4 linked regions of the Homo sapiens genome follow. The protein of the gene in region 2 interacts with the protein of the main gene of each other region in a biochemical or structural test. Each region holds a gene or a part of one and is shown on either strand. Other genes may lie near its edges.

The links.
Region 1: of the proteins of PIAS1 (region 2) and FLI1, one has a biochemical effect on the other in vitro, tested with the Homo sapiens proteins (one study listed by BioGRID).
Region 3: of the proteins of PIAS1 (region 2) and HECTD2, one has a biochemical effect on the other in vitro, tested with the Homo sapiens proteins (one study listed by BioGRID).
Region 4: of the proteins of PIAS1 (region 2) and PRDM1, one has a biochemical effect on the other in vitro, tested with the Homo sapiens proteins (one study listed by BioGRID).

What each region holds. Positions count from the first base shown.
Region 1 is NC_000011.10:128,809,065-128,813,791, forward strand, and holds the end of FLI1 (Friend leukemia integration 1 transcription factor), read left to right. Parts: intron 1-92; coding exon 93-140; intron 141-1,394; coding exon 1,395-1,924; 3' UTR 1,925-4,203; downstream 4,204-4,727. UniProt on the Homo sapiens protein: Sequence-specific transcriptional activator. Recognizes the DNA sequence 5'-C[CA]GGAAGT-3'.
Region 2 is NC_000015.10:68,050,348-68,057,345, forward strand, and holds the start of PIAS1 (E3 SUMO-protein ligase PIAS1), read left to right. Parts: upstream 1-3,967; 5' UTR 3,968-3,979; coding exon 3,980-4,003; exon of another isoform or gene 4,004-4,878; coding exon of another isoform or gene 4,879-4,884; exon of another isoform or gene 4,885-4,888; coding exon of another isoform or gene 4,889-4,891; exon of another isoform or gene 4,892-5,536; coding exon of another isoform or gene 5,537-5,566; intron 5,567-6,998. UniProt on the Homo sapiens protein: Functions as an E3-type small ubiquitin-like modifier (SUMO) ligase, stabilizing the interaction between UBE2I and the substrate, and as a SUMO-tethering factor. Catalyzes sumoylation of various proteins, such as CEBPB, MRE11, MTA1, PTK2 and PML.
Region 3 is NC_000010.11:91,406,094-91,413,373, forward strand, and holds the start of HECTD2 (probable E3 ubiquitin-protein ligase HECTD2), read left to right. Parts: upstream 1-4,250; 5' UTR 4,251-4,345; coding exon 4,346-4,483; intron 4,484-4,535; exon of another isoform or gene 4,536-4,679; intron 4,680-7,280.
Region 4 is NC_000006.12:106,081,814-106,089,355, reverse strand, and holds the start of PRDM1 (PR domain zinc finger protein 1), read right to left. Parts: upstream 3,021-7,542; 5' UTR 2,803-3,020; coding exon 2,761-2,802; intron 1,603-2,760; exon of another isoform or gene 1,510-1,602; coding exon of another isoform or gene 1,426-1,509; intron 1,156-1,425; coding exon 907-1,155; intron 1-906. UniProt on the Homo sapiens protein: Transcription factor that mediates a transcriptional program in various innate and adaptive immune tissue-resident lymphocyte T cell types such as tissue-resident memory T (Trm), natural killer (trNK) and natural killer T (NKT) cells and negatively regulates gene expression of proteins that promote the egress of tissue-resident T-cell populations from non-lymphoid organs.

The sequences.
Region 1 (4,727 bases), on a different chromosome or scaffold from region 2:
AAAAGTATAAACCCTTATGGTTTTCTTATGGTTGGTACGGTTGTCATATTTTTTAAAAACACTGAAGCAAATTTCCTTTTTTATTTCCTTAGATCCGTATCAGATCCTGGGCCCGACCAGCAGTCGCCTAGCCAACCCTGGTGAGTTTACCTTGGCCTGCAAGCCTTTTTTGCCAGAATGTTTCGTAGCTTTGTGAAATCACAGAGACTTCTGTCCTAAGTCCAGACACCTGAGTGGGGAGTAACATGCACGTCTTTCCTTGAAATGTTCAATGTCTGTTTCTGGAGCATGTGAACAACAGGTCAGGGCTTGTTATGAGGTGTCAAGGTTGGTTAGCTGAGGATACTTCTAGGAATAAACACATCAGCACTGCACATGTGCACTTAGGTGTAGATGAGTAATAAGTGGCACAGGTAGGTAGGCGTTTCAATCAGAGAAAATGGGCAAGAAAGAAAAGAAGACAACTCCACTCAGCTCTCAGTTGTCTCCCGCATGCCAGGCACAAGTTCATAAATATTCCAAAGGGTTTTATTTGTGATTTTAGAAAGTGTTGCCAAGTTATCTGGCCTTATAAAAGAGATGTGTCCTGGAAAAGTTGCAGATATAGTCAATTTGACCTTGTACTTTAAAGATTTAGTATCAAAAATAACTCTCAAGAGGGTCCTTCTAAACCAAGTCCATCGAGATTGGGAGCTAGCAGGCCCTTGTCGCAGTGTGGCCCACTCACCTTCCCATCCCAGGGACTCTGCCTACCCATTCCTTAGTGCCTGGTCATTACTGCCAGAGGAGAAAGCAGCCACCCAGCATATTCTGGGTATTTTTCTCTCTGCACAAGTTCTCTGTAGAACTTAGAGCTGCAAGCCAAGCTCTGGGCCTGCCAAGGGCCAATCCAGGTCCTGTCCATCCAAAAGCTAAAGCTCATGGCGCAGCTTCTCCCAATGACTCCCACAGTCATGCCTTGCCCCTGACTTTTTATTGCTGACAGGGAATTCCCTGGGGGACATGACCACTAATTAGAGATCAGTCAGTGATTCAGGCCTTTCTAGATGAAGAGATTCAAAAGCCTTGCCAAAGGGATTGAGGGGGGATATGGCTCACCCAAGATCACACAGCTAGTTCTGGGCAGAGTTTGCACCTCACTTCCCACATTCCATTTACCAGGCCTTGGGGCAAAGCATCTTAGGATCTAACCTCGCTTATTATACCCATCTCCAAGGCAAGCAGAAAGGCAAATCAACAATGACATAAGAAGGGCTTGTCAAGTCGATCCCAATGTCGAAGGAAACAAAAGGTTTCTTTAAAAGGATGAGAAGCTCCCTGCATTTAGGGAACTGGGTTCTGCCTTCTCTGGGCTGAGGTGTTCTGTTCTCTCCCGTTTGCCTCACGGCGTGCAGGAAGCGGGCAGATCCAGCTGTGGCAATTCCTCCTGGAGCTGCTCTCCGACAGCGCCAACGCCAGCTGTATCACCTGGGAGGGGACCAACGGGGAGTTCAAAATGACGGACCCCGATGAGGTGGCCAGGCGCTGGGGCGAGCGGAAAAGCAAGCCCAACATGAATTACGACAAGCTGAGCCGGGCCCTCCGTTATTACTATGATAAAAACATTATGACCAAAGTGCACGGCAAAAGATATGCTTACAAATTTGACTTCCACGGCATTGCCCAGGCTCTGCAGCCACATCCGACCGAGTCGTCCATGTACAAGTACCCTTCTGACATCTCCTACATGCCTTCCTACCATGCCCACCAGCAGAAGGTGAACTTTGTCCCTCCCCATCCATCCTCCATGCCTGTCACTTCCTCCAGCTTCTTTGGAGCCGCATCACAATACTGGACCTCCCCCACGGGGGGAATCTACCCCAACCCCAACGTCCCCCGCCATCCTAACACCCACGTGCCTTCACACTTAGGCAGCTACTACTAGAAGCTTACTCATCAGTGGCCTTCTAGCTGAAGCCCATCCTGCACACTTACTGGATGCTTTGGACTCAACAGGACATATGTGGCCTTGAAGGGAAGACAAAACTGGATGTTCTTTCTTGTTGGATAGAACCTTTGTATTTGTTCTTTAAAAACATTTTTTTTAATGTTGGTAACTTTTGCTTCCTCTACCTGAACAAAGAGATGAATAATTCCATGGGCCAGTATGCCAGTTTGAATTCTCAGTCTCCTAGCATCTTGTGAGTTGCATATTAAGATTACTGGAATGGTTAAGTCATGGTTCTGAGAAAGAAGCTGTACGTTTTCTTTATGTTTTTATGACCAAAGCAGTTTCTTGTCAATACACGGGGTTCAGTATGACACAGAATCATGGACTTAACCCGTCATGTTCTGGTTTGAGATTTAGTGACAAATAGAGGTGGGAAGCTTATAATCTAATTTTAGGAGGACCAAATTCAGTGGATGGCAACTGGAACATTGATTGTAAGGCCAGTGAAGTTTTCACCCAACTGGAATTTGATGGAAAGAAGGTTTGTGTGTTTAAGACGCCAAGGGCATTGCAGAATCCCTCTCAGTGGACAGTATGCACTCAGCTGACCACTCTCTCTAGAAATAGTCAAGATATGAACTAAGAAATTTTAATGCAAATACATACATTCCTGAAAGACGGGGAATTAAATTACTAATTTTTTTTTTTTTTTAAATGATGACAGTGGTCCCAGAACTTGGAAAAGTTGTAGGGATTTCTAAACTCAAGCAGATTCGCAAGTGCTGTGCGCTTGTCAGACCATCAGACCAGGGCCAACCAATCAGAAGGCAACTTACTGTATAAATTATGCAGAGTTATTTTCCTATATCTCACAGTATTAAAAATAAATAATTAAAAATTAAGAATAAATAAACGAGTTGACCTCGGTCACAAAAGCAGTTTTACTATCGAATCAATCGCTGTTATTTTTTTTAATGTAATTTGTACATCTTTTTTCAATCTGTACATTTGGGCTGTCTGTATGTTTTTATAGCTGGTTTTTAAAAAGCATAATATGCCTATAGCTGAAAAGGAAACAGGGCTGTTTAAGTCACTGACTTATGAGAAAGCAAAGCACTGGTACAGTTATTTAACAGGCATACACAAGCAGGGAAAAGATAATCCATTTAGATCTTTAATGCTTTGGAAATGCGTGTAACAGTACTGCAATAATCACAGCTCTGGGAAAAACAACGAAACTTTCCCTTGTGGAGAGGAGGGATTTTCCTGCTCTATATAAGCAACATATTTTTAGACATTAAAATATATATAATTTTGCAGGTAATTGTTGACTTTTTTAACTATATTAAGTGTTAAGCTGACAACTGTCAAAGAAGACCATGTTGTAAAATAATTTGACTAAATAAATGGTTCCTTCTCTCAGTGCTGAGGACAGTTTTCTTATTTACCGCCCCCGTTAGGTCAAAGGGTTTTCCCTGGGGAACTTTCCTATTTACTTCTTGCACTATCAAGAATTTTTCGAATGTACCTACTGCAGTACAGCAGAAGGTAAAAAATCAGTGTGGTTTTTCATTGTTGTTGATGATGTTTGTAGTGTTTTTGTGTGTGTTATTTAAATCTTCCTCCAGCCTAAAAGGGTTTTATAAAACAGCAGCTAAGGCCATGGATAAACCTGTATGTAAGGACTGGAGCAAAGCGAGCTGGTCTATCCAGACTGGTCTGTGAGATTTAACTCTGCAGCCTCCCCTGGGCACTTCAGACCCAGACGGCCACCTTCTGCCACTCCAGCAAAGAATAAGCGCCCTGCTTCCTTCAGGTCTCAGACCAGGACTTTATGGCTCATGCAGATTTTTAAGGTCATTTTTCTTCCCAAGGAAGAAACTTGCCTCCAGTTCCTTCACTGTTAGGTAGCTTATTTTCATTTTCTCTATTTTACAATGAAAAGAGTGAGACCTGGGAAGTCCTTGATTTGCAAGGAATTAGACTCACAGCATTGGTAACCCTAGAACCTTCTTAGGGTAACACTAAGTACCTTCTAGACAACATGTCTACCTAAATGAAATGGGATGTGTTTCGGAACATTTGTCTCCAGTTTTTTTTTAATCTTGCACCCTGCCATTTAAAAAGATGTGTAAAGCACATATTCTCAACATATGCACATTGATTTATAAATCATATATACAAACTGTTACATTATTCTTCATATTAGAAAACAAATACAAAATAGAACATTTTAAATGGTGATATAAAAATAAATTGAAACTGAAATTCTACTCTTTTCCTCCTATTTTCTCTATATTGAATATCCTCTGCTATTAACTCTCAAAACAAAGATGTTGGTCTTTAGTGAAAAAAGTGTATGCATGTACTGGATTTCTAGTGACTTCCAAGAAAGGAGAAAATTAAAACTTGGTATTAGTGGCCCAAGCATAGAAAGAGGAATGATGAAGGCCAGGTATGTTTAAGAACAAACTAGCTGAATTCTTTGGCAGATCTCCATCTTAGCCACGCAATTTCCCCATCAATTTTGAAATCTGCAAAGTATTCATTAGGGAAAATGGAGGCATATATTTCTGAGTGCTGTAAGAAGATGCTCAGCCCATTAGTTCATTCTTTTAAAGGTTTTCTTTATGTGTCCTACTCAAACACTGGCTCAGGCTCATCTTCTCTACACAGTCATAGAGCTTTAGCCAAATCTCGCCCCCTGAATATGTTCCACAGTGATTTGTCCTATGCCTCAGAAGCTGGCCCACTGGCTGACAGGACTGGGGCACCATTTTCTCCTCATAAGCATTTG
Region 2 (6,998 bases):
TATCCACCTAGTCCTGCCCTTGACACTTGGGGATTATTACAATTCAAGGTGACATTTGGTTGGGGACACAGACCCAAACCATATCATATATATATATACGTATATATATATATTCATATATATATACATATATATTCATATATATACATATATATGAATATATATATTCATATATATATTCATATATATGAATATATATATGAATATATATATATATAGCAATGTCATATTTTAAAATGTGCATGGAATCATAGAATGCCAATTTTCAAGTGTTCTCAGCTTTATAGTGAATAAAAGTAGTCACTTCCAGGCAGGCCCAGAAGCCTCAAGATATTAGATATTGCAGGCAAAGTCTGATGTCTGCCTTGGTTTGACTTCCTAACATCAAGAGGTTTTTAAAAGTCCAGATTTGTTGTCACAATTTCCAGCAAAATAAATTTAAAAGAAGCCTATGTGGTTATTCTTGCCGCACTTATGTAAATAATCAGGTCAAGTTTGAAACTAAATTAATTTTAAAAATAAATTGGTCTTACCATGATTATCTTTGGTAGAAATGGGAATGACTGTAGAGAGAAAAATTATGTTTCTGAAGAAAACCATAGTACACCTGTTACTAGATTGCAGCTTTGTTCATTGTTTTTGAGTTTTTATCATCTATCTATAGACTAGCCTGGATCCTGAGTTCTTGTTGCCTTCAATATCTGACTGCAATTCTCCAACCATGAACAAAAACTGCTAAGCTGAACAACTCGATATAAATTTCAAGGGACAAGTCCCATGCTTGATGAGGGAGCCACATAGAGAGTTTAGCAGAACACCTGATGCCACAGCCAGAGACATTTAAACTGCAAACCAGGATGAGAAATTGCTGACATCATGTTGTGGACAGCGTTTTCCAAGACTGTCAGAATAAGACTCGCTACCATGATAAGACTCCTTCCCTTCTTAATTTTTTCTTGCTTATGCCCACCTCTTCCACTTGGCAGGATAATGCTGTAGTTAAAATTTCACAATTAGTAGTTTTTGTGGGTAAGTTGATAAAGGGTCAAACCCAAACATTTACAGGACCCAAGAGAGCTTTTATTCCACCTAGTGGGTAACTTTAGCAACATCCCTAATGCAACTGTTTGTTCAAATTTTACTAGTGGCCTCTTTTGTAGAGTTAGCACTCTTTGCTTTAATTTAACCCATTTCTGAGATGCTAGATGATAGAATTGCTGCGTACTAACCAAACGGGGAAATCTGTGCTGTTGCTGTCACTTCTTGTTGTACATAAATAATCTGGTATTGTAGAGACTCAGTTTCAAAAAGTTAGCAGGCTACTTGGTGAAAACAGGTAGATTTCTCATCTGGCTCATTCTTTGATCTATTTGATTTTAGTTGGTTTGGTTTATGGCAACCCTAGCTAAGAAGCATACTCCGAACTCTTGGCATTGTCCTCCTGATAGTCACAATTCTCAATTATGTTCTCTCAAAAAGTTTTACATATTTGCATACAGCCAATTGTTGAATGTCATATGGTCTCTCTTCAGCTGCAATGACAGAAATACAAAATCATGAGGACACTGTAATCTATAAATGATGTGTTGAGACTGGAAACACAGAATGATGTTAAATGAGGGTAGTGCTAATGCCCTCAGTCTTAGTCACAATTTCACCTAGGTTGTTAAATAAAAATCATGGGATGCCATTGTTTTCAACCAAATTCCTGCATCAGGCCTCCAGATCAGACTAAAAATCAAAATGGTGTCACCCATGTTCACCAAAACAAAACTGAGTTATCTGGTTTTCCAAAAAATGGTAAGAGAGATAGCCAATTTTCCAAACAGAAGTTTCAATCTTTAACAGGCATGATAATGAAATTTCCTGTTTTAATCCTTAAAATAGAATACCTGAAGTAACCCAATGTTAACCAATCAGTTTTCTTTCTACTGTTCTGTCTCCACGTCTCCACCTTAAAGAAAAGTGACTTTGATATAACCAATCTGCTTTTTGTTGTTTCTGCCTTCTTCAGTCTATTTTCTGTCTCTAAAGTTAACATCCTCTGCTTGATTCATTGCAACATTTATTCTATTTTGTGGAATGAAGTTTTGTCCAATTCTAGGAGTGCAATAATGCCAATGAGATCTTGAATCTCAATTTGTTTTACTTTTGTTTCTTGACAATGGAGAGGTTTAGGCTAGAGAGCATTTTCAAAGTCATGAGCATATAGACTTCAAGTCAACCAGTTAGATGAGATCACCTGGTGATAAAATAGAGAAGAATGCAAGGACCGAGCCCTGGAGCAGTCCAACATTTAAAGATTGAGCCAAAGAGGAGAAACCAGCATATCAAAAAGGAGGCCCAGTGAGGGAACAGGACTATCTGTGACGTGTAGGTAAGTTCAGGGGGAAAAGTGTTTCAAATCAAAGGAACCATGTCAATTATTCGCGATTCTACAGAGAGGTCAATTGAGATATGGATAGAGAATTGGCAATTGCCTTTGGAAACAAGATCATTAGTAATCTTGATAAGTGATACAGATGATGGAAGCCAAAGCTCGATCAGGGTAGACTGAGAAGTGAATGTGAAGTGAGAGGTAGGAACAAGCACTATTGGAGAGATCTTGAAAAACCTTTCTAAGAATTTATGAAGATAGCAGAAAAATAGGGCAGTTCCTAGAGGCGATTTTGGAGTCAAAGGAAGTTTATTTTAGATGGGAGAAATTTCAATATATTTATATGCTGATAGGAGCAATTCAATTGAGAGGGAAAAAACTAACGATGCTGGAGGGTAGGTAATTGTAAGAGTAAAATCCTTAGGAATGTGCGTGAAAAAAATCCGGTCACTGGTAAAGGGACTGGCCTTCCTAGGCGCAGGGACACTTCATTCATAGCAACCCAAATGTTACTATGCAGATAAGGGTGGTTTTGATGGTGAGAAGATAAGGGAGTTTATTTCTGATATCTTTCATTTTTTCCATGAGTTATGAGGCAAAGTTGATTAGTAAAAGTGGGGGTTGGGGAGGAGGTATATAGAAGGCTTTCAGTAGAGACGAAAAGGAATGAAATAATCCTTCCATCAAGTCTACTTAAATGTCAATTTAGTGGATAAAACCCTCCCAGAATTAAGTACATCTCCCAAACCCTTTCTCTCTCTCAATGACCTTTTGCTCCTTTCTGGTACTCACTAACATTTGCAATTGTATCTTTGTTCGTTCACTTCTCTGATTCCCCATTAGAGAACTACAGAAGGGCACGGACTTTGATTTCAAAATGTATATTTAGCCGTTAGCACAAGGCAAGCAGATGGTCACTAAATAAATACTTTTTTAAACAAAAATGTTAATGAACACCTTCAAAATTTTGTCTTACGCCACCTCGTTAAAATACTTGTTTGTGCAAGTCACTTTTCCTCTCTGAGCTTTCATTTCTGAATCTATACCATGGGAATTATCTCTTCCTTGCCTACCTCCCCTCGTTATCAAGAGGATCTGAGCCAATAATGATAGAAATGCTTCATTAAGGGCCCCTTAAATGTAATGGATTTCTATTTTTAGCCCACTGGTAGCCTCGCAGGTAGCAGGTGCTGAAAAAGCCTTGCTTATTGGGGGTTGGGGGACAGCATTGTTTCTGTGACCGTAGGCGTCGAAGCTATGCAGAAGCGTTCCGCGGACCGCAGAGAGATGGGGCTCAGGCCAGCATCCCTCTCGCTCCGGCCCTTCCCGGGAGGAGCTGGCCGAGCTAGGATGGGGGGCAGGGAGACCGAGGGGGCAGTAACTGTCAAACCTCGCCGCTTGGCGCCATTATTTAAATGGAACGTGCCTGTCTCGCAGCTGTACGTGCCCGGGGCGGGGCTTCGAGCGCCCTGAGCGGGGCGGAGGCTAGAGGCGGGCTGGGAAGGTGGAGGGGCGGGCCGGGGCGGGGCCAGGCCGGCTAGAGGGGCGGGTCTAGCGGCGGCCCCCGGCGAAGTTCACTGCGCTTGCGCTGACAGACGCAAGATGGCGGACAGTGCGGAACTAAAGGTAAAGCGCAGCTCGAATTCACTTCTAATATTCGGCCGCGGAGACGGCGCCGCTGCTGCCAGGGGGGATGGGTCCGACCCTGGGGGGCCTCTCGGGCCTGACTCCACCCGGGCCTGGAGTTGTAGGGAGAGAGGCGCGCCCGGTCTCAGCAGAGGGGGCCCGCCTGCGGCGGGCCGCGGGCCCCGGGTGCCTCGGGGGCGCTGACGGGTCGTCCCCGGCGTGTTATTGTTGTGGGCGCCTCTGGCGGGGGTGGCGGGGGAAGAGATAGGGAGTCCGGAGGTAGGGGCTGCAGCTGTCTCATGGGCTCGGCTTTTTCACCTTCCAGTTAGCCTCCCTGCCCCCCATGGGGAGCTGGGGCTGGGGGCAGGGTGCTCTCGTAGGGGGGATTGGGAAAGCTCCCCGTGGCCGCTTCCTCTTCCTCCTTTGCAGTCCCGGGCTCCTGTCAGGCGCTCTTCTCAGACCCCCGGGAACTTGGCTTCGGCCGCCCCGCCCCTCCGTGGATCCCAGTAGCCCCCGCCCCGGACTCGGCTTTCCCCGGCTGCTCGCTTGTCAGGAAGCGCCTGGGGTGCCCCGCTTGTGGGAAGCGCGATCCCGGGGCGATAGGGTGGGGATCTGGGGGAGAAGCTCTGGTAAAGTTTAGCGAGCCCCGGGCCGGCGTTGGGGTTCGGCTGAGAGGTAGTGAGCGGGACGTTACTCTTTCTCTCTGATTCCGGGCAGCCGAGGGGAGAAACCCCCTCGAAGAGTGTGTCTTTGGAAGCAGTGTTGGGAGGGGGGGATGCAGCTACCTCTCTCCCTTCTTTTGCCTTAGCTGGTGTGGAGGGTGAGAGGAGCCTTTGGGGGTCTCTGCACACACCATGATGGCGATGCTGTAGCTGATGGAGGTGAATGGTTCGTGTTTATATCCCCCCATTGCCTTTTGTTTGTAGGGACATCTTGCTGGCCATGTTGATTTGAACGAAATTCTCCCCTCATGCTACTCCAACCCCCGATAAATAGAACGTTCCTCTTAACAGTACCAATTACTCACGCCTCACGAAATTAGATGAAAGGGTGCCCCCTTTTCCCCGCTTTTCTCCCACCCCAATCTTTACCTGATGATGGCTTCTTTACCGTAGCAGATATACCACTACACAAGCAGTTGGGGGAGGGGGTGGTGGAACCCTTATGACTGGATTGTGACAAATGGGGCTCCGCTTGAATAATTTTGGTTTAGTAGCAGGCAGTTCTTAACTAACGCGTATTATTTCGAGGCTCTGAACGCGATCTTCTCTGTGGCTTCCTGTGTGTGTGAACCCAGCAGCTGGTTATGTCTCGACCCAGAGAACTGACATCTCTGTCAGAGAGGAGATGGGGATATACAATTGTAAATCTTTGGGGAGAGTCTTCTTTTTATAATAAATAAAAATTATTTAATTTTTTCCCCGTTATAATGAAACGACAACTTCTAGAACAACCAAATGCCAGATTTGATTCTGTAGAGTTTTTCCTGTGGAATATCCTCACCGAAAGAGCTTTTCTCCTAATAACTTCACAATGTTTACACTCCAAGATTCGTATGTTAAGGTATTGGCTTTGAGTGTCATTCTTTTAAAATGTACTTCTAATTACAAATTTACTGAAGGGAGAGCAGATTTACAATGGATGGTTTTGATTTTTCCCCAGTTTCAAACTATTGACTGAAATGAGAAAGCCTTAGGAATTTGAATATTTGGAGATAATTAACCCTTGAAATAAAAAAAAGCACACAACTTTAAGACATGTTTTCTATAATTTTTCTCTTAGAGTCACTATGTTGCTGTGATCTTTGCCTTGTAATATTTATTTTGTTAGGAGTTCTTTTGAATGATAGCTAATCAGTTGTTATACATGGACCATAGAATAAAGCTGAAAAGCATGTGCAGACTATATTGTCACTCTTGATGCTGTCCAAAGAAACTAGTATGGAAAGCACATGCTGAGAGATTTCCTTCTTTGTTCTTTCTCATTTTAAGAAAGTGCCTTTGGGGATAGATCAGATCCCTGGTGTGAGTCTTGTTAGGTAAAGTTTCTCTTTACGAAAATGAACCAGTATCAGATAAACACCAAACACTTGAAGAAATGTTATTTTTCTAAAATTAATCTCGTTTTTTGTGCTCTCCCAAATCTACTAGAGTTTTTCCAGAGGAAGTTTTTTTTTTCTACTCTTATGTTCCTGTTGTATAATTTTTCAAATTATAATAACTGTTTTGACATGTTGGTATGTCATTGTGTGTGTCTGAGACTTTGAGGAGCTGTGTGATAAATTGCTTAGCTGGTGATAGCGGCGTTAAAAAAATTTGGTTAATACTTTATTGTGGTTAGATTTGCTGTTCTTTTTTTGAGGGGTGGAGGAGGTGATCTCAGGAACGCCTACCATAGTTATTTGAGAATGTGTTAAAAAAAAGAGAATGTGTATATATAATTTTCTGTGCAGTAAGGTTTGGCAGATACTCCTTTTGGAAATGATATTTTCTGAAGGCTTTTTGTTTGTGATTTTTTGGAGGTAAATATCATACATTCCTAATATGATAGGAAAAATCAGAGTAAGAAGAAAAAAATCTAGATTTTTTGAAATTTTAAATGGGAATAGAGTACTTCAACTGTGAAGCTTTACATAAAACTCAGTGACTTTTCATTATTTTAGGTTTCAGCCCCATACTTCATTTTGCTGTGGATTGTATTCATAATTATTTTCCTCATGGCTTTTTTAGTGAGTCCTTTTAAATCTATAAGAAATGTGCAAAGATCAGATGGGAAAAACAGATAGATCTTTATCCCCTGTAGGAATTGTGCAAGCTGCAACACTTCAAGATATTGCCAATAAAAATTAGATTGTGAGTCATACATATCAAAATGAATTCTCTATGCACATTTGTTTATGAAAGGTTTAATTTTTCATTAGGGGAGTACCCATAAATGTCATTTTTAAGAATGTGGAGGGTATTTTGTCATCTTTAGGAACTTAGAAGCAGGAGGG
Region 3 (7,280 bases), on a different chromosome or scaffold from region 2:
TTATCTTTGGAAAAGATTTCAGAGCCCCTGTACAAACCACTTCAATAAAACATCTTGTTTCGTTTCTTCTGAGTTTGCTGAGTGCCTCCTCAACAGCATACTCCAGGTAGTGTGCTACATGTGGGGACTCAAGGACTAATTAGACATAGTCTTTCCCCTCTGTGCCATGACTTATTTGGGGAACAAAAAACTAAGATGTAATGTAATAGGTCTATAAAGGTAAGTATGTACAACATGATCTGGGAACGGAAAGAAAGGAATGATTCTATTTAGGACATTAAGAAAATGCCTTCTTTTGCAAAGAATTCAGCTGAATGCCACACTAGGGGGAAAATTTTTAGCATAAAGGCTTTGAAAGACTACTACAGTATTTTAAAACAAAGGGCTGGCAAGAAATTACATATTCTGAATAGGTCATTCTGGCGGCCATTAGAGCAGGTAAGAAACTGAAGGCAAGACCAGTTGCCAGGCTACGGAAATAATTGGGGTTAGAGATGTTAAGGGCCTTGATTAGGTCAATGGCAATGGGAATCCAGAGAGAGAACAGATTCAAGAGAAGTCTGATTAAAAATACAAAGCTTGATCATCATCTACTTTATTCTTCAGTCTTGGCTGTGTATAGCATTGTGCAATTTTAAAAAATCATTCTCTAAAGATAAAGATTTATCACATCACTGGGGTTATTCTAAAGAATTAGTTGCAAAGATTCAAAAGTGTTTCAGTACGTTCAATTTTTATAAAAACAAAGGAAGAAACACTGTGGGGTGTGTGTGTGTGTAGATAGATACAAGAGATTCTGTAAAGATACACAGCAAGGTCTTAGTGACTATCGAAACTTAGTTTAAATGATTCTGCTAATCTGTATTTTCTGTTTTTCTGTAATGACAAAGCATCTTTTTTTTTTTAAACAAAGAAAAGGTTTTTTTGTTTTGTTTTGTTTCGTTGTGAGATGTGTCACCCAGGCTGGAGTGCAGTGGCACGATTTCAGCTCACTGCAACCTCTGCCTCCCGAGTTGAAGCAATTCTCCTGCCTCAGCCTCCCGAGTAGCTGGGATTACAGGTGCCCACCACCACACCTGGCTAAATTTATTTATTTATTTATTTATTTATTTATTTATTTATTTATTTATTTATTTTTGGTATTTTTAGTAGGGACAGGGTTTCACCATGTTGGCCAGGCTGGTTTCAAACTCCTGACCTCAAGTGAGCCACCTGCCTTGGCCTCCCAAAGTCTTAGGATTACAGGCATGAGCCACCACACCCAGCCAAGTTATTTTTTAAATAGTAATTTTAAAAATCCACAACCATTATACCTAAGAAAGAGTTCTAAAAATCTTTTTAACAAGGTCAACATGGCTAAAATAATTTCCCCAAGTTTACTTTAGGACAACATTCAGTTGAAATATTAAAATAAGTTGCACTATTTCATAGCTATACCTTCTAAAATTAAGGTATTAGTGGTATAAACCATTCTAAAATGACCTGTGCACCTATTTTGCTATTGTTCACTACATTAGTATTACTATACATAATTAAAATAGAAGTTATCTATAATTTCGACCTTCCATTACCTTGTAATTTTGTCTTTCTTTTTCTTCCAGGGAAATAATGAGTTCTCTAACCCTCACTCCCACCCTGCCAAACCCTATTCCCCATAGGTATAATTAATGAGCTCAGGTCTTCCATCTGGACTTAGAAACATGAAATGCTTCTTCTGCCTCGCTCCTAGTTTTTCCAAAGCGAATGAGTTTATACTTGGATACCCTCACTGTTGCACGTCTGACACTTGGCATAGCTAAAAAGCATCTTCTCCACACCTCTGTACAGAATGGCCAGAGCTCTCTGTATGTCCTGCTTTACAACACTCTCTTCTCCCACCTGGGTCTCCAGAAGCACACTGATGGCAGTTGGGAATGTGTCTCTCAAGCACACCACGAGTTCCCCCAGAGCTATAATTCTACAGCTTTCCAGCAGGCCCCATTCCCATTCTCCAGCCCCCTCCTGGACTATGTATGAGGGAGGGATGAGGTGGTGGATTGAGGACATTTATTTAATAAGAAGTCAAAGGAAACATGAACAAATTATCATTTTTTACATGGAACTCACAAGCTAATTAATCAGAGAATTTGTTAAGAAATGGGTTATCTACTCTGGTGCAGTAGCAGAAATTAACATTTTTGACTTGCCTTGTTTTGCCAATATTTAAGCAGTTTGTTCTATTGAATGTGACTACATGTACAGACACACTTTTATTTAGTCTCACACATGAAAAAAGAAAGCAGAAGGCCTGTTATCCAAGTGGTTTCTCATCCAAACATTTTTATAGCAAATTACTAAATCTAGTTGAAAACAATAGGAAAGAGGATACTTTTCCCTCTAGTATTTGTTCTATCAACCTAGACTTAGCACAGAATATCTGAAATTGCAGCTAAAATAAAGGCTTCATTTTATAAAATAACATTTGAGTTGTTCCTGTATCCATGATCAGCATACAGACCTGCTAAAAGCAGAAAATAATGTTATGTTCCTCTCTATGGGATGAGTATTTCAGTAGTTTTAAGGAAAGAAAATCCTGAAAAAGAATTTAGAAAAATATTAATAGAAAGGAGGAGGATGCTTCAAAGTAATGCCGACATACATCATTTTCCCTCCAAGGCTATTAGCACTGAAATACTTTTTGCTGACTATATGGCACTTATTCTATACCTTTTGTTAATTAACAAGTAAATAGGTGGCAACAGCAACTATATTAAAGTAGAAAGCCTTTCTATAAATGAAAGTCAGAATTCAAAATTTAGAAGGCAACATTGTTTGCTTCAGATCTACTTGTTACAAATTGTGGGTTTGAAAACATGCAACCTTATCTCATGATGCACCATAACTAGTATTTAGTTATACTAATAACTCCAAATTATGTAAACAATAGATACCCCGAAATCATATTTGGGTTTGTTTCAGAGATATTTTTGGTTCTTATATTTGGACTTAGGTACTCTTGATCTAAAAATTCACTCAACCTCCAATAAAATAATGAAGGCACAGATAAAAAATCTGATAGAGCTGAATATCGAAATTCCTTGCTTTTAACAGGCGATACAGCGCATTCTTACTCTCTTTTCTCCTAGATCAGCAGGTGTCCCCGCCGCTCCAGTAGACTGAGAAAAAGGAAAAGGAGGGGGCGACAAGAAAGGAAAGGAAATTGTCTAGGTGTCCTGGTGGTGGAGGTGGGGGGTATTTTAATTTCATAATTAAAAGCTCTCTTCTTCGGCTTTCAAGTTTTTACTCCTATTTGTAATGATTTGATTGAGGACTGTGCAGCAGAGTTTGGGTATGTACATCTCTAACATAAACGGAAAGGAACAAGGAAGGGACGGATAGGAGACAGCAAAGGGTTGCGGGGAGAGAGCAAAACGTAGGCGCGTGGGGACGGGAAGGGAGAGGCGGATTTGGCAGTCAAAGAGGGACGAGAGGAACAGGAATGGAAAGTGTGGACTGGCCGTCCAATCCTATGGGGGAAGGGGAAAGGGGGGGCCCACCACGTCGCACTCCTCCCCACCTCCAGGCTTTTCCTGTGTAGGCTGAAGCCATCCAGGCGTGTACAAAAGAGTCGGTTGCTGAGCCAGGAAGGCTGTCTCCCCGGGCTGCGCAAGCTCCGGGCCGCCTCTCCTGGGCTCAGGAGGGCGGGCAAGGATAAGAAGGCAGAAGCCCCAAGGCGGACAGCTTTGTGGGCGCCTGGAAGAAGGCGAAAGGCCACCAGCCCAGACCCCGAGGGCGCTTGCCCGCGGGACTCGGCGCCGCAGGCCAGGGCCGTCCGTGAAGGGTAGTCTGTGCCTACGTCCTGCCCTACTGGTACCACTCGGACACTCTATCCCCGTCCGACCCTTTGCAGGGCTCGACTTGTCTCCCCGACTGCCCGTCCTTAGTCCAGGTTCTCCTGCGCGGCCCGGGTGCGGGGTCTCCTCGTCATCTCGGGCGACACTCTGCAAACAATATGGCGGTCGGGCGTCGACCGTGGCGCCTTCTCTCCGGGCCCTCGGGGTTGACGAGGGGGACTACCGCCGGCGCTCCCGACCCGCGACGCGCGAGCCCCGGGCGGGCGGGGGAGGCGAGAGCAAGAAACCTGTGGGACCTGTGGGGAGCCGCGTCCGCGGGGCTGGCGCGCGCGGGGGCGGCCTCGGGCTCGCGCGCAAAGGCGCGGGCGCGGGCGGGGGCGGAGTGGCGGCGGCAGCGGCGGCTAGAAGCGGCAGCCCAGAGCCCTCTCGCGGCCGCGGCGGCAGCAGCAGCGCCAGCCCCAGCAACACTGAGGCCGCCGCCGCCGCCTGGCGCTCCCGCCGCCCGGCCCGACATGAGTGAGGCGGTTCGGGTACCCTCGCCCGCCACTCCGCTGGTGGTGGCGGCGCCCGCGCCTGAGGAGAGGAAAGGGAAGGAGTCAGAGCGCGAGAAGCTGCCGCCCATCGTATCGGCGGGCGCCGGCGCGACCGCGGTAGGTGGTGGGCCGGGGCCGTCTGGCGCCCCGGACGGCGGGAGTTGGGAGGGACGGCGGCCGGGCGAGGGCCGTCAGGAGGCCTGCGTTTACCCTGGGCACGCCCTGGCACTCCAGGGAGACGCACTCAGGCCGCCCTTCCTTGGGCAGAAATAAAAGAGTTGTGCCTCGTGGACAGCCCCGAACACTTCGCGAGGTACACCTACCACCCTCGGGAAATGTTGGGGGTGGTCGGTTCCGCTGGATGTTTGGGTTATTTTCTGGGGCTTGGGCCCCCACTTTCTCTAAGAGAATGACCTGCATCTTGAGTCGGCATGATCTGTTGGATGAGCATAGGTGTCAGCAGGCGGGAGTGGGTTTTCCACGGAGGTGCCTGCCTGCCTGCCTGCCTTGGAGGCGCGCAGATTTTTGTCCTTTTCTTCGCTTTTCTTTCCCTTCCCCCTTCAGATTAAACAGGCTCTGCGGCGAGTTTCCACTTAATTGTGACCTTTCCGTTGCTGTCAGTGTAGTGGGAGGTAGATGCATCAGTGATGGTTTTATTTTTCATATGGTACAGACATGTGACTCAGGTGGGGGGAGGCTTTTTGAACCTTTTATTTAAACCCAAGTTATCTAAGCTTGACAGGGATGATTTCCCAGCTGTATCTTCGTAAGGGTTATTTGGAGAGCGCTGTCAGGCTTCAAACTACATATTGCCAGATGATGTCATGGGACAGCCCCCTCCCCCTCTTTCCCTATTTTTACTGGTGGTTGTGACTGGTTAATTTGAAGCACAATTTAAAAAAAAACCTCGGATTTTGCAATTTTTTATTTTGACATAATATTTAAGTACTTTTTGAAAGTTTGCTTTGATATATTTAAAGATCATGACTTGTCATGCAGCTGTGTGTGACAAAATAGTAAAAGTTTAGTGAACATTATACATTTTCTTTATTCCTACTTGCGGTTCATTTCTTAAAACCTCCCTCTTAAATGACTAAGAACTTACTAAAATAGCTCACTCTTCGTTAAGTACTGTATTGGTGTTAGGAATAATTTTCGGATTCGGTAGGTTTTTCAAAAATGTCTGAGGGCCCTGATAACTGGAAATTGTTAAAACAAGCTCTTTAAATCAATGCAGCAAATTGCGAACAGTAATGATACACGTTTAAAAGCGTAGCTACAATTGATTGGTAGATTGGAGCTGGGGTTAGGGATTACCCTAGAAAATGCTTTGAAGGAATTTGTCACCCAGCTGCTTGGAGACCTGGTTCCTGCTGCTGGTACCCTAGGTTTTCAGATTTTATATAGGAAGTCTTTAACTCACAGAATTCCAGCAGTTCATTTCTAAGTTGGTTGTTTAAAACAGTAAATGTATGTACTTATAGAAACAGTTAAATGAGTGGGTTTAGGTCCTCAAGCAAACGCTCTCCCAAAAACCTATTCATCTCATAACTGAAAAATTGCCGTTTTGGAATTTGCAAGTGTGGATACAAGTCTACAGTCTGCTTTGGGATTTCAAGTTTTTCAGATTTTAGAAAGGTAATTCGGTACATATATCATATATTATTTAATACCCACAGTAAGGTCCTAGCCAGTTCTCTCTAATCAACCATCTTAATAACTGTAATGAAATTATGTGTTCATGCTAAAGGGAAAAAGTCAGTAGCGTCATGTCATTTCAGATTAGGTGCATGTTTTTGCCACCAAATGAGTTGCAAAGACACTTCAGTTTCAAGAATTTATAGGACTTTGAAATTGTAAATAGAGGATTATGGACTTGTACTACTAGACAAAGAGAAGAATATATTCAAGAAAAAAATTTAAATCTTGAATTAAACTTTGAAAAGGTATGAGTTGGAATAGAAGAGGATAAGGATAAATATACAAAACTTGAGGGTTTTTTTTTTTTCTTTTTGAGACGGAGTCTTGCTCTGTCGCCAGGCTGAAGTGCAGTAGCCTGATCTCGGCTCACTGCAATCTCTGCCTCTCGTGTTCAAGCCATTCTCCTGCCTCAGCCTTGCTTGTGCCTTATAAAGTCTTTCAGAGTCAGTACCATTGATTATTTATTTTTTAAAAAAAAAAACAATTTATGACAGGATCTGTGGCAGAATGTGTGTGTGTGTGTGTGTGTGTGTGTATTTGTCAAAGAGAGACTTCAAAGCTAGAATTCAGAGCTAATAGCAGTGAAAAGCTTAAGTGTAGAAAATCTATGCTTGGTCCTTAGTCCATCCAAAGGATAAGAAATCCAGGAGAACTGGGGTGGTGATTGACTTTTACAGCAGCTAGGAAGGCCTTGGTATGTGTGGGGAGGGGGAGGAGGTCTTGATGTGTGAGGTAGGTGGGCAGGGAAATACAGCTTGTGGCCTCTTGAGTTGTTTTTCAGCCTCCTGTAGATTAAATAGAGCTCCTAGAGGTTTGCTTAGGAACCTAATTGTCATCAATAACTTTTTCTTTGAGACATTCCAGTGATTGTTCCTTTTTGCCCCAGCCTAATGGTTCTGCCTGTCTAGTTTGTGTCTATGACTCAATTCGTGACCCTACAATAGTGGCTTTTTCAGAAAATCATTGTACCACATTTATAAATGAATATATATGAATAAAATAATATAAATATTATCAATAAGTAGAAGGTCAGTTTACAGTGACCCTAAATAAGGTTGAAGAGTTAGGCTGTATCCTTTATGTTTACAGAAAGGTACAGGGGTGGGAGAAAGAATGCTGGAAAGGGCAGCCCTGAAGTGTTTTATCCTAAGACCATCTAAACGTGAAGGAAGTCCATTCCAGCTAGTGAGGAGGTGCCTAACACAGTGGTTTC
Region 4 (7,542 bases), on a different chromosome or scaffold from region 2:
TGAAGGAAGTAATAGAATTGACAGTGCTCTGTGCTAATGGTGGTATGGGAAGTCTGCTGAGGGGTCCTTTCATTCAACTCAACCCAGTAGTAGACTAGTAAGTGCAACTACAGTAAGCCAAATTCTGAAAACAAGAGGTGGTTCTGCAAGTTATTTCACAGCTAAACATCACGCCTAGCTATAATCTTTATATTAAAGGTAAACACAAATCAGTTGCTCATTCCAAGTTTGGGTTTTCATCCCCTTTGAAACAACAAAGAGTGTACCCACTTCAGAGGCCAGTAAGGAATTGGCCTGCCAGCCCAGCCCCAGCAAAGGAGCTGCTGCAGATAAACAGTGGTTAGCTCTGAAGTCATCCAGACAGAGGACACTTTTACATGACCCCCTTTCTCGGCTTATACCATCACTTCACTTCATAAACACGTCAAAGTTTTGAGGATAGTTTTAGAAACCCAGCTAATAAAGCTGGCTTGTTAAAAAGAGTAAAGCCAACTAATTACCAAAGACAGACAAAAGAAATATTAAAACTTTTTTTTCCAAGAAAAAGTTTTCTCCCTTAAGAGATATTGTACAACAGGGACACTAGGGCCAGTGGGCCCAGAGCTTTCTTGAAGTTCACTGACAATTTCACCCACCCTATGCTGCAAGTTGCTTTTCTAAGACATGCCAATTTGCCAAAATATTTAACTGTTTACTAATTAGTGAGGAACAGTTGAAGGCTGGAAGAAATGAGAAGGAAATGGTTTAGGGAAAGAGAAAGCAATGCAAGAATTGAATAGAGCAATCAATTATTTACTGATACTTACAGATTCTCAGAGGTTTTCAGAGATATACAAGGCCTCAAGGGCAAGTAGGGAGATTTGGCACCAGGTCCCCAATCTTCTTGTCAATAAACCAGAGGCTTACCTCTTCACTGTTGGTGGCATACTTGAAAAGCAGATTCCTTGGTAAGGATGCCTCCGCCTGAACCGAAGTACCGCCATCAGCACCAGAATCCCAGGGGTGGTCGTTCACAATGTATGTACACTTCTCTTCAAACTCAGCCTCTGTCCACAGAGTCATATCCGCATCCTCCATGTCCATTTTCATGGTCCCCTTGGTCCCCTCTGCCAATCCCTGAAACCTCACAGTGCTGGAGTTACACTTGGGGGCAGCCTGGAAGAGAAAGGAAAGGCCTTTAATCCCCATTGTCCCGCCGTTCCTGTGGCTCCTTCTGAGAGGCTATGACTAATACAGTAGTCTGAAGACTTTAAAAGCAGATGCAGAGTGCTTGGTACAGTTGAGAAAGAGCCAAGAAGCCGTATAAAGTAAACTGCCTTGAAAAGAAGCAAGGTTTTTAAATGCTACTCTTAGTTAAAAAAAAAAAAAAAAAAAAGAATGTGGCAACCTCACTGTGGGGAAAAGGAAAAAAAAAAAAAGAATCACCTCTGAACAATCCCTGGCTTTACCTCTCATGGCAGAAAAATGTTCTGGGCACACAGTCCAGTGTCCCAGAATGCCTGGGGTCATGGCCGCCAGACCCTCGGCACTGTGGAAAAGCTGCCTCAGAAAAGTGTCACAAACAAGGAGAGGAAGAGGAAGGAGCTCTGTCTGCCTCTGAATGAAGCTAAAAATGGAAAGCGCGTGTGGTGCAGGAGCGGAACCCAGCCTGCCTTTTCCAAATGGGGAAGACCGAACTTTCCCACCAGCTCCCAACGCAAAACAACTTTCAAAACAACTGCCTCCTCCCTCTGCTGCGAGCTCTCTTTCATCCTCTCACATGGAAGACTGAAAAGGGTTGCATCCTGCCAGCATCACTGAGCTACGGCCTCTTAGAAATCACTTGGACCACAGGAAAAGAGGAGGAAAAATGGGTGAAGGGGAAAACAGCCTGCAGTGTCTTCTGACTTGCAAGCATCTCATACCAAATTGAAAAGGCAAAAACAAAACATAAAACCGTTTAATAAAATTCCCTGGAGAGAATTCCTTTAGGAGTCCTCAGCTACAAATAGCACTTTCCATTTAAATCTGAAAGTGTATGAATTCCCAGAAGTCACTGATGTACTACAGTTTACTGTAACTAAAGTTATAACAAATTTAGAAGACTTGGAGGACAAGCTCTGCTTCCACTTGTACATTGATGAGGATATTCCCCCAAAATCCTCCCTCACACTCAGAAAAAAACTGTTTTCCAAAGGCAAAAAAAGGTAAACAACTTCTGTAAGGGTTTTCTCATATAGACATGTTTGATAAAAATGAGGAATATGGGTATCATTTCCATGTAAGAATGTGTGTTTGTTCAAATGTAAACATAACATTCTGTGGAAGTCCTTCAAGGAGGTTTTTACATTCTTCCACTTCTCTAAATAGGATGCTCTTAAAAAAAAAAAAGTTGGATGCAAAGTTGTTTTTCCCTCAGTTATGATTTAAGCAAACCTGCTTATTTTTATTTAGTTCCAACATGTAGAGTCATGACGCCAAACACATGTTAAAAATAAAATAAAATAGAAAACTTCAGCCAACCCGGAATAGTTTGACGAGTGTGAGCTGGAACCACTACTGAAATTTCAATGAATTGGCAATTATGTCTAGAACTGAAAGGGTTAATGATTCATAAGGAAAGTCTCACAAATGTTTGACAGCACTAAGTGCACTAAAGCAGAAGCATGTTTCTACTGCGACATTAGCCAAAAAAAATTAATAATAATAACAATAAAGGAAAAGAAAATAAAGTTTTCAGATCAATTTCAGAATTAAAAAAAAAAAATTCAAGTTCCTTACCAAGGTCGTACCCACACGTTTTTCCAAGCAAATATCCAACATCTGAGAAAAGTCTCGTTCATCTCTACCCAGTCCACATTCTCCCCGCGTCCCCCGCCAGGCTGAGCCGCACAGACGCGCACCTCGGCGGTCCCTCCTCGCTTCGTCCGGCCGCCCGGGCGCCCGCGTCCCAGCTCCGGGCGGACAGGTGCCGCGGTCGCTGCTCTTGCCTCTCCGCAACACTGGAGGGCCGAGTGTCACGGCAGCACTTTGTCTGTGTTAACCGTCTGGCTTCCCCTCCCTGCTTAAGATTTCCTTAGCCACTCGGCTGCGCGAAGTGGGGGCGTGGCCAACGTGGCCAACACCACCTGGCCGAGCCCAGGGCTTTCCCCCAGATTGCTAGCACAGCCGCCGAGAGCTTCCTCTCTTCGCATGTGTATTTCAACATTGACTTGGAATCTTCTTACTTCCCTTTGAAGGCACTTAACCTCAACGCTTACTTGGGCTCTATTGTATTCTAAACACTCCAGATCGCCCTCCTTCCTGGCGCGGCAGAATTAGGGGGCGCACGTTCCTTAAATTAAGGAAACTTAAAATTTACCTACACAGTTTCTGATTTCTCAGCTCAAATCCCCAGGTACAAAAGACACAAATCTTACTTCAAAAGAGCAAGTTAAATTGTTTTTGCAGCTAGTGTAATACAGTGGAGCTGTCTGGTCCTCAAGCTGTTGTGTATGTAACGCACGTTTCCCCGCCCCCCGCCCCAAAAGTTGTAACATTCCGTTTCTCCTGCTAACGTTCAAACTTGGCAGAACTAACTTTCCTCTTTTAACTATTTAGTAAATAGGGAAATAGGCAAAAGTTATAATTCTACAGATTGTTTGTTTTCCTTTCCTCTCCTCCCAGAACCCACAGGCTGACTTCCCAGGAGTGTAAGTAAAATGTAGAGCATTAGTCGTTTCACAGTTCAGAGGAATATTGAACTGATCACTGCAAGTGGAAAGCGGTCGGAGGCAGTAATTAGTGGGGCTTATTCTGAGCCCCGGCCAGCTTTTCCTCCAGCCCAGTCAGTCCTCTGTTGAAGGAAGGACATCCTGTGATGATGGCATACAATGTCCTGTTTGTTTATTATTAAGAGCGTGGACCTTGCATTCCTGCTTCTCATTACAAAACAAACCAGATGCTTTACTTCCTTCAATGGTCTTGTGCCTTCAGCAAGGAATCCTTTAATTCAGAGAAACAATGTTTATAGCAAACACCCCATTTCAATTATTATTTAGATCATTGAAATCCAGGTCTTCCATTTTTCCTGCTTGCCTTACCATAGGTAGGTTTTTTTAAAATCATTTCTCCTTCGACCTGCAATGTCTTTTCTAACATTTTAAATACACGTGTGCACACACATCCACCCACACACACACCCACATACACACACCCAGTTCCAACCTAATGATACCAACTTAGTCATACAATGAAATGGACATCTGAGTATTTGTTTACAGGAAGAAATGAAACAAAGCAAAACAAAAGCCCAACTCAATCCTAAAAAATATGTCTGTTTATCTTTAAAATTTCTTTTCTCACTTTTAGAAAACTTTTCTAGAATTTTTTTTAGGGGAGAGGGGGAGAGGCAAAAGATTATTTGCCAGGAAATGGTGTCTAAAGTCTTGCTGCAATCTCTCTCTCAGTACAGAACAATTAAATTCCCACTAGGGGACATGATTAGCACACACTCGCTGCTTGCTGCGTGGCCCACCTGTGATTGCATGTTATGCCAGAGGGGACGCTAGCACCAAGAGGAAGCAGGACTTTTAGAAGGCAGATCTGCTGGGGGTGGAAAACTGAATGAACAATTCCTAAGAGTCCTCAGAAAGCTCCAAGCTGATAATTAAACAAGAGAAATCCAGCCTGCTCAAGAGGGTTTATTAACTGATGCTGAGTCAGCACCACAATGGACAGAAAAACAATGTAGTCATACTGAAGGCTGGCCTGCTGTTCAAACAGTCTCACTTGCAGATGTTAAAGAGTATTTCACTTCCCTTTTAGAATCAAACTCTGTTCTTAGGCCACATACACCATCATGCAACTGCTGGTGAGTCAACCATGATAGAGTAAGGGAATAGGCAAAAAGTTTGATATTTGAGGTGGGAAGAAGGCTATTTTAAGCCAAATATTTGCTTTAATGACTGGAAGATGCCAGTGAATCAACTCACTGTTAATTAATATCAGCCTGCACTCACCTTCAGAGGTGGTGAAATGGGCTTGAGTCTAGGGAGGACGCAAACTTCAAATACCAGTGTGGGGCTTAGCCAGGCAACCCTAAAATTAGTTCCAGGTGTCCCAGCTGAGCTGGACAAGGCCACGGGTAGAACTTTAAGGAAAGTAAATTTTCAGACACAGAGTGTTGGAATGTAAAGTCCTTCACATGTTTGCTTCTTGTCTCAAAGTGATTGGGAAAAAAAAAACCTCCAAACCAACTTTTGACTATGATTATAGTAGTCAATGATGGATATCATCATTTAAAATGAAAGCTACCAAAAAGGAAGAAGAAATAAAAGAAAGGAAGCTTGCTCCATAATAGGAAAAAACATGTCCATATTGTAATATTTAGGTATTGTCCAGCACAAAACCATTAAGGGGGAATAAAAGGGACTGACCTCTGAACTTCACTCGGTCCTCCCAGAGGGCCTGAGCAGTGCACCTTTTTACTGCTGACTAAAGCTGGGAGACCCTGGCAGCAGTACAGCTGTGCAGAGAGAGCTATCAGAGGCTGCCACTGTCTGGAATCTTATGTCTCAAAGGGTTTGTTTCTAAGTAATAACTTGGTGCATTTTTAGTCACTATATTATTTCCCCCCAAGTTAGAACACCGAAAAGAACCTCAGTTATCTTTATTAATCAGCATTTCTCAGGCAGAGCTCTCACATTAAAAGTGTTCACAATGGCAGCAAATCATGAATGAGCCAAATAGTTCTGTTCTCAGAAATTCTCATCTATTCCCGTGGATGGCATCATCACAACAGTTCCATCAGCCAATTTTAATTCGGTTTCAGCTACTGGGCCAGTTTTTTTCCTCTCCCAGTTCCTGGGTGGATTGGGAATTGCAATGTTGGTGGCCAGATGACTCTATAGGGAAAGGACTATTGTAGAATGAAGGGAAATTGAGCACCAAATCTGGAGACCTGAACTCCACTTGGGGAAAAAAAATTTTTTTTTTCGAAAGGAACTTTTTTTTCCTAAGGTAAAAAAAAGGGATGAAATGTACCCAAGATGAAACATGTTTTCATTTTCTCATTCAACTCCTGCCATACCCAAACAAGGTCAATGACAGGCTAACCACATCAAGAGAATAACCCCCCCACCCTCTTCTTCCTACTCCCTACCACCCACCCACCCTCACCCCCCACACCCATTTCCCGCTTCCTGTAAGTTAGGCATCTTCATGCTGGTAAACATTTGGGGACCAACTGTAAGCCTGAGCCTGAGAGAGGGGCACTGAGGCTTTGAAGCCCTCCCACATGTCTCAAAGCCAGGCTGAGAACTAGAGGGACACTTGGTTTTTAAACTTTAACAGCCTTTTCAACTCAAATCACTGGGCTTGGCCTTCTGGCTGCCTTCCTTTTTAAAAGCCGGACAAGAAGAGCGAGTATGTGTGTATGAGTGAGAGAGAATATATGTATGACACATGCTATGTTACAATGCAGCCTGTGTGTGTCATTGGTGTGATATGTGTACGATATGTTTCGATGATGAGTTGAATCAATTTAAAAATAGCACAAGCTTCCTTCTCATGACACAGCTCACCTCCCAAAAACTTTTGACAAACATATTCAGGGCCTAAACATTGGGACGGTGACCTTCAGGGGCTGTTGGATGTTTTGGAATGAGGTCAGTGTTTTGACTTCCTACATAAGGGAAACAAAAATTAAGTAAATTCAAGAACACAAGTAGAGCTCCCTTCCCACCCTAGGAATGAAGATGTAAGTGTTCTCCAGAGGACTTTATAAAACCCACAGGATGTCCAAGGTCTCAGAGTATTTATAGAACCACCTGTATCATTACATCTAAGTATTAATATCTTTTTTAGCCCTCCCTTCAGAAAGACAGTTGTATTCTCATCTAATCATTTATATATGATTTTAAAATTATTTTTTAAACTATTCCTTTAGTTCAGCATCTACCAACTTAATAAATGATAATAGCAATACTAATCATTTCCAGATGACTTGTGGGGAAACCAAGGTTTGGGGTTTCCAAAATTTGCTTTCCCTTCTAATTATATTTTTATCATAGTGAATATTCAGACAGAAGAATTTTAATTTCTGAGAAGTCTGTGGGAAAGAACAGGAGAAGGAAGATTATTTCAGAACTCAGAAGACACTTCCTAACCTTACAGCTGGTGGGAAAAAAGGAATAATCCTAAAATTAAACTAACAGAAGGCAAAACCTGAACTGTTAACAAGGGAGAAAAAGAGCAATAGGAAAGGTGTCCACTCTGAAACTCATCTCTTGTCTTTATTTGGAGAACCGGAAGAGTAGCTTCCACACAAATGAGAGAGCAAGACTGTGGGTCAAATGTTTGCTTCTCTCACCTTTCAGTGGGAGGAGAAGCCATTCTGGAAGAGGGGAGGACTCAAGGTGGAAATAAAGGGAAGGTCGCCAAGAATAAGATTAGGGAGGACCAGTTGGCTTAAAAATGAAGGTGAAAGGCTTCTATGGAGGATGAGCAGGAACAGCAGCAGAAGACCCAGTGCAGGGAGGAGCAGTCCCCTTGGAAGAGGAAAAGGGACCCTACAGTTGTACC